Linked DNA regions of Homo sapiens: region 1 is linked to region 2. Evidence: fine-mapped expression QTL. Tissue or cell type: whole blood. Region 2 holds a variant in brackets; the other region holds the start of a gene. All regions are shown on one strand. Distances are between the middles of the regions.

Evidence for each region. PIP is the estimated chance that this variant, and not a neighbour inherited with it, causes the effect.
Region 1: it holds the start of SMG7, and the variant in region 2 is fine-mapped to the expression of SMG7 in whole blood (INTERVAL, PIP above 0.99).

Annotation. Positions count from the first base shown.
Region 1 is chr1:183,469,246-183,475,002 of GRCh38, reverse strand. SMG7 (SMG7 nonsense mediated mRNA decay factor) reads right to left here and starts at 2,504. Exons shown (of 23, transcript NM_001375584.1): 1 at 2,354-2,504. The coding sequence starts at 2,382. It overlaps SMG7-AS1 (SMG7 antisense RNA 1), which reads left to right and starts at 3,021. Exons shown (of 5, transcript NR_040063.1): 1 at 3,021-4,283; 2 at 4,463-4,538; 3 at 5,204-5,329. RefSeq lists silencers at 2,517-2,666, 4,639-4,828 and an enhancer at 2,822-3,453.
Region 2 is chr1:183,521,894-183,527,650 of GRCh38, reverse strand. It overlaps SMG7 (SMG7 nonsense mediated mRNA decay factor), which reads right to left. Exons shown (of 23, transcript NM_001375584.1): 5 at 884-1,055. Among named protein-coding and RNA genes, the nearest start is that of SMG7, 52 kb to the right of the region's middle. The variant C/T (reference allele first, on the strand shown) is at 2,333.

The DNA.
Region 1 (5,757 bases), 53 kb after region 2:
TCTCTACAACTCTTAAGTTTTCTCAGCTATATCACACTACCTTGTTGTCTAACTGGACTGAATACCTCCCTTCCCCCCAGCTTCCCTACCTACATAACTCTGCTCAGTTTCCTTCCATTTGGAATTCCCCGCTTCTCAATCCACATCTGTCAAAATGAACATTAAGGATGAACAATATCCTAAGTGCCATTTTCTTGAAGTCTAACAAAGTGTAAGCTCTGTAAAAGGAGGGTGGAGTTGTTCTTTTTCTATTCTCAGATGTTGGTACAATGCCTCCCATACAGGTGATCAACAAAACAACTAATGAATCATGAGTACATGAATGAGCAAATAAACAAAGTCTTTCCTGATTTCCTCCCATTGCTCAGGTGATCTCCTGCCTTTGGACTCAAAACACTTCGTATCTTTTATTTTTATTTATGTATTTACTTATTTATTGAGACGAAGTTTCACTCTTGTTGCCCAGGCTGGAGTGCAATGACGCCATCTCGGCTCACTGCAACCTCTGCCTCCCGGGTTCAAGCGATTCTCCTGCCTCAGCCTCCCGAGTAGCCGGCATTACAGGCGCCCACCACCATGCCCAGCTAATTTTTTGTATTTTTAGTAGAGACGTGGTTTCACCATGCTGGCCAGGCTGGTCTTGAACTCCTGACCTCAGGTGATCCTCCCGCCTAGGCCTCCCAAAGTGCTGGGATTACAGGCGTGAGCCCCCGTGCCCGGCAACGTTTGGTATCTTTCATGGTACTTACACTCTGTGCTGTTTAATTTACTTGCCTAACAGATACTCAACTGCAAATTCCTTAAGACTAATCAGCACCCTGATGGTTTCCATCTCTCTATAGCACCTACAACAGATCTTTGTCATAGCTATATTTATTTGAAATATTAAACAACAAAGGGATATCTAAGATGAAAAAAAGGACCTCAAATTACAGACATCATTCCAACTGTCCTGTGGTCACTGGGCATATATGTTGTGTTAAAATCAAGCATTCAAGCATTGTTCAAATATCTCATCATTCTCTTCTCTCCCTATTATGCTTAATAAAACTTTACTACTTTAAAAATTATAATGGCCACCCTATGTATCAGGTAACTACACACCTCTTGCAATATACATATAGGGATCCACACACGTCAATACTTTCATGTCACTAAACAGCTAAAGTGACTTTTCCACTCATTTCAGACTTCCACCTCATCCAACTCCCTCCTCCGCAAGGTATGAAACAATTTTTTAAAAAACATCTTTCCATAAGGCCTCCCTTTCTTAGTTCTGCTCCTGAAAGACAAAAAGGACCAATTTTAAAGTCTTCCCCTTTTCTAAGCAGTAGTCACTCCCCAGTTAATTTCAGGATCTAACAACCTTACTTTTCTCTATCAAGATTTTTGACCCACTTTACCTCTGCCTCCAAGCTCTTACTCAGCTTCCATGGAACCTTTCAGCTGACACAAAAGCTGGTGTCCTTCCATTCAATATGTTCTCGCCATCAGGTACTAAGTTCAACCTATCTACATCTTCATCCTGAAATGTGCATCAATCGCCGCGCCCCCCACCCCAGACACACATCTCGCACACACACACACTATTCCCATGTGTCACTCTACCTCTGACATACAAGTTCCTTACACCACTCTTAATGAATACACACGACTCTCAGAATGGTATCTTCCGACTACACTGATTCTAACCCAGTTTCTTCTGAAAAACCCAACCTTGTCCACAGTGCCTCCCTCTTTCCTCACTTCCCCATCTATTCCCCTTCACGCCTCCCCACACCGCCAACTAACTACAGATGACATTATTCCTCAATACTCCCAACCCGAGAATGAAGAACAAGCTCCAGTTTCCTGCGGTCTCCCTCTCCCCCTGTCTGCCCTCCGCGGTTCCCCCGCCCCAACACCCCAGGTGTGCAGACTTCCTCCCCGTCCTCTACTCATGCATCGCTCCAACCAATCCCACGCCACACCACGAGTCCCCTGCCACGGGGATCAGACTCCTCCACACCCACCTCCACTCGGGGTCGCCGCCGCCTCCCCGGACGTTTCTCTCCACCCCTCGCTAGCAAACCCGAGACCAAGGGCGCGCGCGCACATTCTCACGCTTCCCCAACCTCCCTCCTCGCACCGGGACGAGCCGGCTTCGCCAGAGCTCAGCCCGGGCGGTAGGGGCTAGGCACCCATACCCGTTCCGCCCCCTCCCGCAGATCCCCTTGCAGTCTCCGCCGACCTGCCCGGCGAGGAGAGGACGCAGCAACTCCCCCGCCACCCCGGACTTACCTCGGTGTCTGTTGCTCCATGCCCCAACCTGCGGCCCGCTCCCCCTACGTACCAGCCCGGCCTCGGCACTCACCGGAGGTACTGCGCGCTCTGCAGGCTCATCCTCCGCCGCCGCCGCCGCGTCTTCCCGCGAAGCCTCCGTGGGTCTCTCAGGCTCCTCGGAGCGGCCCCGCGGCACCGCGGGTGCTGGCGGCCGCCGCCATCTTCCTCTCCTCCGGCTCCTCCTCGCTCGGCAGGGGGGTGGGGGTGAATGAGGCGAGGGGGAGGGAGTGGGGAAAGCTGCTCTCGCTGCTGCTCTGGCCCGTGGGGCGCAGGGACACTCCGACCCGGGGGGGAGGGGGAGGGAGGAGGGGCGGGGGAAAGAGGAGAAGCAGAGGAAGTCGGCGACCGGGCGAGGGAGGGGGTCCCTCTCGCGAGATTTCAGCAGCGCCTGTCCCTCAGTGATTTCCGCCTCTCTGTAGCGCTCCCTTTTGGGATCAACGAGCTGTGTGGCGCCTGTGCGGCTTCTGAGAGACCGGCTGGTGGCGCTTGGCGGCTTCCTGCCAATCCACCCTTCTCCTCCCGCGCAAGGGGGCAATCCCAATCCCACCACCGGGAACACCCAGGCCAAAAGAACGGGAGTTACACTCAAAGTCTTCCCCCTTCTTATCACTCCTGCCGATTTCCCTCTTCCTTTTTGCACGCCTCCACTCTTCCCCACCGGAAACGCCGCCCCTTCCTCCTACAGTTCCTCCCAGCAGTCCCTCAACGCCTGTCTTCCCTCGCGCGTAGAGAGTGACTCGAAGGACCCCCTCTCCTCTTCGCTGCAGCCCCTCCCCATGCACGCTGGGAGACTCTTGGAGGGGATAAGGTGGGGCCCGGAGAGGAAGAGAAGACAATCGGATTGGATAGGCAGCTGCCATGGCAACTGGAGGCTGTGGTTATATTGTCATAGTAACCGATGTGTGCGGACAGGGTCACCCTCCCCTTGGCCAATGGATTCCCAGGAAACCACCCAGGGTTCCCCGTTGGCTTCCCTTCCATCTAAAGGCCTCCCCCAAGTTAGGAATCGATATAGTTCTCCCCGGTGGTGAAGTCCACTTCCTCCTCCCTTCCCACTTCCCACAGCAACTGGGGGGACACCCCGAGGCATTCACCATGGGCTTTTCCACCCGCCTGCGAGCGGGAACCACCTCCGTAGTTTCCTCTCAGAGCCGGGCGTGGAGAGGGCTGGGCCTGCGAAGAGGATGCATGGCCTGGAGGCTGGCGGGCGGCGGGCTGGAGTCGGGAGGGCGAGGCGACAGCGCCAAGCGGCGAGGAAGGGCAAGGGGTTTCCCCACAACTGCCTTGGGCTCTGGGAGGCGGGATCCCGCCTGGACGGGGTCCCTGAGGGAGGAGAGCGGCACACGACAGCCGCGATGCCTTCCCTGCCGACGGGGATAGCCGACTTCTGGCGAGTCGACCCCTCCCCCAAATCCACCCCACCCGCGTACTCCCTCCTGACCTAGCTGTCGCGAGCCTGCCGCGAGGAGGCCAGGGTGAGGGTGGGAACACATCCTAGAAGGCTAACACGTGGTTTTCTATCATTTAAGCCGGGGACAAGCCGGAAGGCTGACTAGCGCCATCACTCTGATAGGCACCCCGCAGTGGGGATCCTGCTTGATTATTAAAGGCAGACCTCCAAGTTCCTCCCTGCTCTGCAACCTTTCTCTTCTCACGGGTCTGCAGTGTTTTAAAAGTCGTCATTCTGTGTCGTTGAGTTAGAGAGGAAAACATCGGATAAAAGAGGATCAAGAAGAACGAACCCTAGATACATCTGTCTGGTGAAAGGAGTCTAGGAAAAGAAGTTTCATTCTTAGAACAAATCTTTTTGGATATTTATTATGTGTGTTTTGTGTCAGGTTTCGGGCCAAAAAGCTGAAATAAAGAACGAAGTCAATAATAATATGAAGTGTATGAGAAATAGCTGGAAAATTCATCATCCATGACTTGAAGAAATTGACGTTTTACAAGTTATATTTTCGGTTCGTATTGTGGAGTCACTTAAGGAGCTATCCCAAAGTACTTTAGGATATGTAACTATATAAAACCTTCCAAGAATGCAGCCCTCATAGGATAGTTAAAATAAGGATTTTAATGGGCTATTTTGATTTGGTTTGGTCTGGTTTGGCTACCTGATTCCTGCTGTCTTTTTCTACGCCAGGTGAAGAGGCACTTTCAAGATCCTTCTCTGAGACCTGCACCAATAAGACTATACCAATGTTCAGTTGAAACATCAGGTATAAGTTTAGCGGAAACGAAAGTACAACCTGCTTTGAAATAAATTCCAAGGACAGATTGTCATTAACGAAATAGAAAGTGGACTATGCCCCTCATGCTGCCAGCGCCTGGTATGGTGCGGCGTGACACGCAGCGCTTGCGGCAGTACAATGCCCCCAATCACCCGCCCCGCCCCGACGCGCCGCCCACTCACGGCAAAGAGAGCCACCTAGTGAGGGATTATTCTCATTTCCGCGGTGGGGTTCTGCTTTTCTTTCTACCATGAGCGCCCAAGGATAGACACTCCTACTACCTATTACCTCAAATAGCCTACATTTCTTTCCGAAAATTTATTGGTTAGATATTTTTCTTTTTTTTTTTTAATTTAAAGACCAGTGTGATCGTGTATTGGTTAGATTTTTTAATTGGTTAGATTTCAACCAGAATAAAAATTGTAATAATTACCCCCTTACTAATCATGGTAATAGCCATTTATGTCTGTGGCACATATCTCCAATAAAGAGTGTATGAACAGTTATCATACATTCCTGATAAGCAATCTAGGAAAATATTACTACTATCTTCTCATTTTGGAAATAGAGAAACGGATCAGAAAGATGAATCCTTTTGTTAGTGTTTGCTGATTTATTCCATAAACATTTACTGAGTACTTATTATATTTCAGACACTGTTCTGGTTATGATGGACACCACAGTGAAAGAGACCTGGTCCCTGCCTTGAGGAAACCCAACTGCTGGTAGAGAGCTCAGAGTAATGATTAGGATGCAATATGAGGGATGCAGTAATTGGGGTAAGAACAAAGTAGGAACACATGAGGTCAGAAATAATAAAGTCTGTGTTTTATAGCAGCTTTCCTAAGAATCTTATAAGAGTCTTCAATAGCTTTACAATATCTCTAGCTAAATAGAAGAATAGTAGTATATTTTAGAGATTAGAAGACTTTGATACTAATATTAAAATTACCTTCAAAAATCAATAGGACTCAGAAAAATTATTACCTTCTATTTATATACTGTTTAATACACATTTTCCATTTTCATCTATTTCCACTTGTCCTAGTCAACAAACTTGTAGAATTACAAACATCTTTCTTTTTGCAATAGATATTGTTCACCTTTTCCCCCCTACAGATATAAGATCACATCTAAACCAAAAGAAATTAAAGAGAAGCTTCCTTACTTACATTAATCCTACCAGATTTTGTTTTTGGGTTTGTCT
Region 2 (5,757 bases):
ACAAGAAGGGGTGAGTTATATGGCACTTAAAAACAAAACAAAACAAAATACACTATACAATATGATCTGAAAATTATGTATTTTTCAATATTTTATAAAGTGATTTTGAAAAATGTCTCATTCCTATTGCAATATTAAATATGTGTGTGCAAAGATTATATTTAAAGCAAAACAACCTAAACACAGTATCAATGAATCTCCCTGCCAAACTCACTGCTTACTCTGATGTGACCTCCTCATGGAACCGCTGACTTACAATATTAAGAAATCTAAAATTTCAAACTTAAAAGCAGTAATGTTCTCCATTCTTTGTTATTTGAGGACAAGCAAAACATAATCCTATAGTTAATTTGTTTTACAACCTTTCTAGGTCACCTTAAAGGAATGAACAAGAATAAATAAGTTATATAATATTCCCAGATAAAATGCAAATAATAGAAATACAAATTAAACTTTAAAAAGGAAGCAAAATTAAAAATCAACTTTTAGTCCATTGGTAAGAAAGAAAGAAGGCAATTTCGCTTCAGGAGTAATTTATAAACCTCATTTATTCCAGAAGAGTACATTTAATTTAGAAATTATGGCACCACTTTGAAAAATTAAGCTTTGATTATGTTTTTGCTGTTTATTATTTGCCTATATAAATTACATAAAGTTGGAATAAAATTTAAATCTTAATATGAAAGTTACTTTCTTCACGATGCTCTGCCAATCCCAAAAATATTGAGAAATTTTAAGTTCCTTAGAATACATTTTATAGTTTCTTCTTATGACAATCTAAATTGTGTGTGTATGCTCCGCTTAAAGGAAAACAGTTTCTTTCTATGACTATTCCAAAGAAAAGGAGGAACATATTATCAATTCCTTCACAGCAAAGGCTCACCAATGTCTCCAAGGTGGACGAGGCAGTGCTGGCAGATATAGGAACAGGAGCTAGACTGTGGCTTCACTATGGCGCTGGTATGCGTCTGTTTATTGCTGATAATTCCCAATTGGGAAGACTTCACACGGCATGGTAAATCTACATTAAATACTGTACACAGTTCTTGTAATAACTAAAAGAAAAACAAACAAAATTTAGTAGTAAGTCACAAGTGCTCTAAAAGTAAAGTTTATAAACTGTAAGATGTGTACCTAGTACCACATACTGCTGAAATCTGAACAAAAACTGCATGAAAATTATATGGTAATCTTTCGGGCCTGGCACAGGGGCTCACGCCTATAATCCCAGCACTTTAGGAGGCCAAGGCGGGCGGATCACTTGAGCTCAGGAGTTTGAGACCAGCCTGGCCAACATGATGAAACCCCGTCTCTACTAAAAATACAAAAAAAAAATCAGCCGGGAGTGGTGGTGAGCACCTGTAGTCTCAGCTACAAGGGAGGCTGAGGCACAAGAATCGCTTGAACCCAGGAGGCGGAGGTTGCAGTGAGCCGAGATCACGCCACTGCACTCCAGCCTGGGTGAGAGAGCAAGACTGTCTCCAAAAAAAAAAATATATATATATATATATATTATACGTTAATCTTTCACAGGATAACTAGTATCATTCATTATAAATCATACCTTTTGAATTCTCAAGTATTACAGCAATCTAGGATGTGCATACAGCAGCATTTTAAAAAAAGATTATTTAACTGGATAGGATTTTCAGACACGATTTTCAGACACATTAAGCAAGCAAAGAAAGCTACTACTCTCAGAAACCCAAAAATTATTAAATATTGGTTACAAATTTGACTTAAATGTAAGCCAAGGTATTTGTCAGACTTTAGGTATTTCTTGCAATTTATTTTCTTAAGCTGTATGCCAATTCACATGTCTTTGCATATACAACGAATCTCACCGTAGTGTACACCTTTACTGTATCACCCATTCCTACCTCCTCTCTTCTCTGTTCTTAAAGTATGAGGGGCTCTTCTTCCTAGTCAGAGCTAACTCTTCTGCCTATGTGTGCCTATTGCTACATTCTTTTCTGGTTCCTGTCTGTCTCCCACCTCTCCATTCTTTCATCTACTGTCAACTTTTCATGCTTCTTTCCTATGGCCTACACACCACGTCTCCCACAGAAAAAAACAAGAACAAAAAACAAAACAGAGCTAAAACACTCTCCTCTTGACTTTATAGCAACCTTTTAATGTCTCTCCTTCTTCTCAACCAAATGCCTTCAAAGGAGTCCACACTTTTCATATCTGCTTTCTCAATTTCTATTTACTCCTTAATCCATTATCATCTGGCTTCCACACAACCCCTCTCCCTCCTCTCACCCAACCATCCATTACCACTCTACTGAAACTACTATCAGACAATTGGTTACCTAATAGCCAAATACAA[C/T]GGATATTTTTCAGACATCATCTTATTGGACCTCTTTGCTGCACTTAAAACATCTGATCTTATGGTTGATTACTGAGCTGTTCTAGTTCTCTGTCATCTCTCCAATCACTCCTTTTCAGTCTCCTTCATAGAAAGGCTTTTCTCCTCTCACTTTGCTTGCCAAGGGCTTATTTCTTGCCCCGCACACAGTTCTTCACACTGTGAAGAATATTTACTTCACAGTTATTCAAATATTTACTTACAAATATCGTCATTCAAATATTATTATATTCATCCAAGTATGTGCTAGTATATCAGACACCCAGTAAACAAGAAAGATACAAAGACAAGTAAGAAAATATGTTTCCTTCATGAGCTTGTAGCTAAATGGGCAAGTCAGGTACAAAAAGAGAAGTAGAGGGGAGAGAGGGAGGGAGAGGGAAAAGGGAAAGGAGAGAAGGACAGACAACATGACACACAATATAACCAACAGAATATTCTACATTTATAACGTAACTTATTTCCCTAGGTTATCTGATAAATTTGTCTCACTTTATCCTTGTGATAAACTAGTAGCAACACAGTATACATAGATATAAAGCTCAATTTTTTTCAGATGAGGATGTGAAGGCAGAAATAATCAAGCGACTGGACTAAGGTTATAGAATTAGAAATATTTTGATTCTATCACCACTCTTTCTAGCATGTACAGAATTCAAAATACAAAATAAGACACCCTAAGGGCTCAACTCAGAAGGATCTGAATCATGCCACCTTTTTCCTAAGATAAAAATCACCTCCATAACTAAATATAAATTCTGCGCACCCTTTCTCACTGGGCATGGAAATTATTTACTCCATCTTTACTTGTACATTTGTAATGGGCAAGAAATTCACTAACATAAAATTGGGTAAACAAGGCCAGGCATGGTAGCTCATGCCTGTAATCCCAACACTTTGGGAGGTCAAGGCGGAAGGATCACTTGAGGTCAGGAGTTCAAGACCAGCCTGGACAGCAAAGCAAGAATCTGTCTCTACAAAATAAACAAATGAATGAATATAAAAATGAAAATAAAGTGAAACAAAAAATTAGCCACGTGTGGTGGCATGCAGTGCTATAGTCCCCGTACTTTGGAAGGGTGAGGCGGGAGGCTCACTTAAGCCCCAGAGTTCCAGGCCGCAGTGAGCTATGATATACACTGCACTCCAGCCTGGGTGACAGAGAGAGACCCCGTCTTAAAAAATGAATAAATAAAATAAAATAAAATGAATACATAAAAAAACAGGGTAAATAAGTTAATGTCCTGAACGGGATGGGTTAAGAAATAGAAAAAGCACAAGGCACAGGGCAGGAACAAAAAAAATATATATATGTAAATATATATATACCTACATATATATTATGAAAAAAACAAAAAACAAAAGTGGATAACTAAGAAACATGAGAGGGTTAAAGAACTGACTTCAATAGGTAATGAAAAAACAGACTGGAAAACTAGGCAAGGCTGCACATCTAGCAAAAACAAAAAAGAAAGATCACAAAAAATAAATAAAATTATGGTTGGAACATCATGTAGAATGTCTTGTAATAAAATTTCTGCCTGAGCCCAAGAGTTTAAGTGGTGATATCAGACAGAAAAGCTCCTACTGGCTCAAAGATTCTGAGAAAGAGAGCTCTAGTTGGTTTAGAGGCAGTAACAAGATGGAACTAAAGAAGAGAAAAGGATGTTTCATAAATTGAACAAAACAATGTCCTACCTTCATATAGGTTGACCCTGATGTACATTACTTTGTAGTAGTTTCCTCAGTCTGATAAGAACTTAGTTACTTCATTATACAGAAGTATTGACTGGGAGATATTCCTAAGGCTGTAGCTGAATATTAATGCCTCTAGTTCTTCCCAAATTATAATCATGGAACTATAAAACTGGAAAATGAACCTATAAGCATTTGTCAACTCTCTTTTTTACAATCAGAAAGCTAAGCACCACAGAGGTAGTGACTTGTCCAAATAGTCACAATTAGCCCTAGAGCAGTACTAGAACAGTTTCTGGGTTCCTATTTATCAATTTTTACACTATCTCTTGTCTCCTCAGCTCTTTATTCCATGCCAAGAATGAAAGATTGATTATGAAGGTATAGAATATTACCTTTTAAACTAATACAGAAACTCAGTGATTATACTTTCTTTTTGGTTCCTATTTTCTTAGAATAAAGGCTACCGTTCTGTTCTTTGATGTTTAAAAACAACCTACAGCAGAATGGTATGTCTTTACTTTGACCAGGAATTTGGTTCTGCTTTAAGCCCCATGCTTTAACTGGTTAACAAAATGGTAGCTAAGAAGTTAAAACTAAACCAGCCTGGGTAACATAGTGAGACTCCATTCTACAAAAAATAAAAAAAGGTAGCTGGTATGAGCCTGTAGTCCTAGGTATTTGGGAGGCTGAGGTGGGGAAGGATCACTTGAGCCAAGGAGTCTGAGGCTTCAGTGAGCTATGATTAAGCACCGTACTCAGCCAAAATGATAGAGTGAGCGCCTGTCTTTAAAAAAAAAAAACAAAAAACTAAAAAACTATCTTCACAGAAAATGTTACTGTGGATAACCAAGTACTAGTCTCTTCTCAATCCACTCTAATCAGGTTTCTATCCCCAACACTGCTGAAGTTACATTTCATCAATACAAAGACACCATAAATTATAAGATGAACCATCATCTTATATAATATTGAGAAAAAACCACAAGTTATATGGTCACTTGTCATCTGTTATAAACTTATCTCTATTTCAGATATGTTAAAATATGAAAAAAAAAGTTTCAGAAATGAAGAAATATGGTATTCATTAAGTTCACCAATGACTTTCATGTTGTCAAACCTAATTGGTCACTTTAAATCTTACTTTAATTCTCAGCAGCACTCAACAGGGCTGATGACTCCCTTCCTTATTCAGATGTTTTTCTCTTGGCTTCCAAGGCACCTTCTCTCTCTCATTTTCTTGATTGCAATGGTGGCTCCTCCTGTGCTAAATCTGTTACCATCTGACTAAGTCAGGGTTCTTTACTATAATCATAAAATTTTTATGATTTTATGATGTTTCCACTGGGCTCCAACCTTGTTTATTCAATTGCTTATTTCAAATCTCTACTTAGATGTCAAACAGGCATCTACTTTAATAGGGAAAAAGCTACTTTCCCCCTAGTGTTTCCCATCTCAGTAAATGGTACAACCACTCGACTAGCTGCTCACACTGATAATTGTATTTGCTTTGACTCCTCCTTTACTCTGATTCCAGAAATTCAATCCAATCCATCTAATCCAAGTATGGCCAACAGGAATTAATAGAGTTAACTTCCATAGCTAGCTTCCATAGCTGATCCCTTTATCCAGGGTTATCGTTTAAAAATGCAAATCTGATCATGTTCTTCCTTTGCTTACTTTCCAACTCC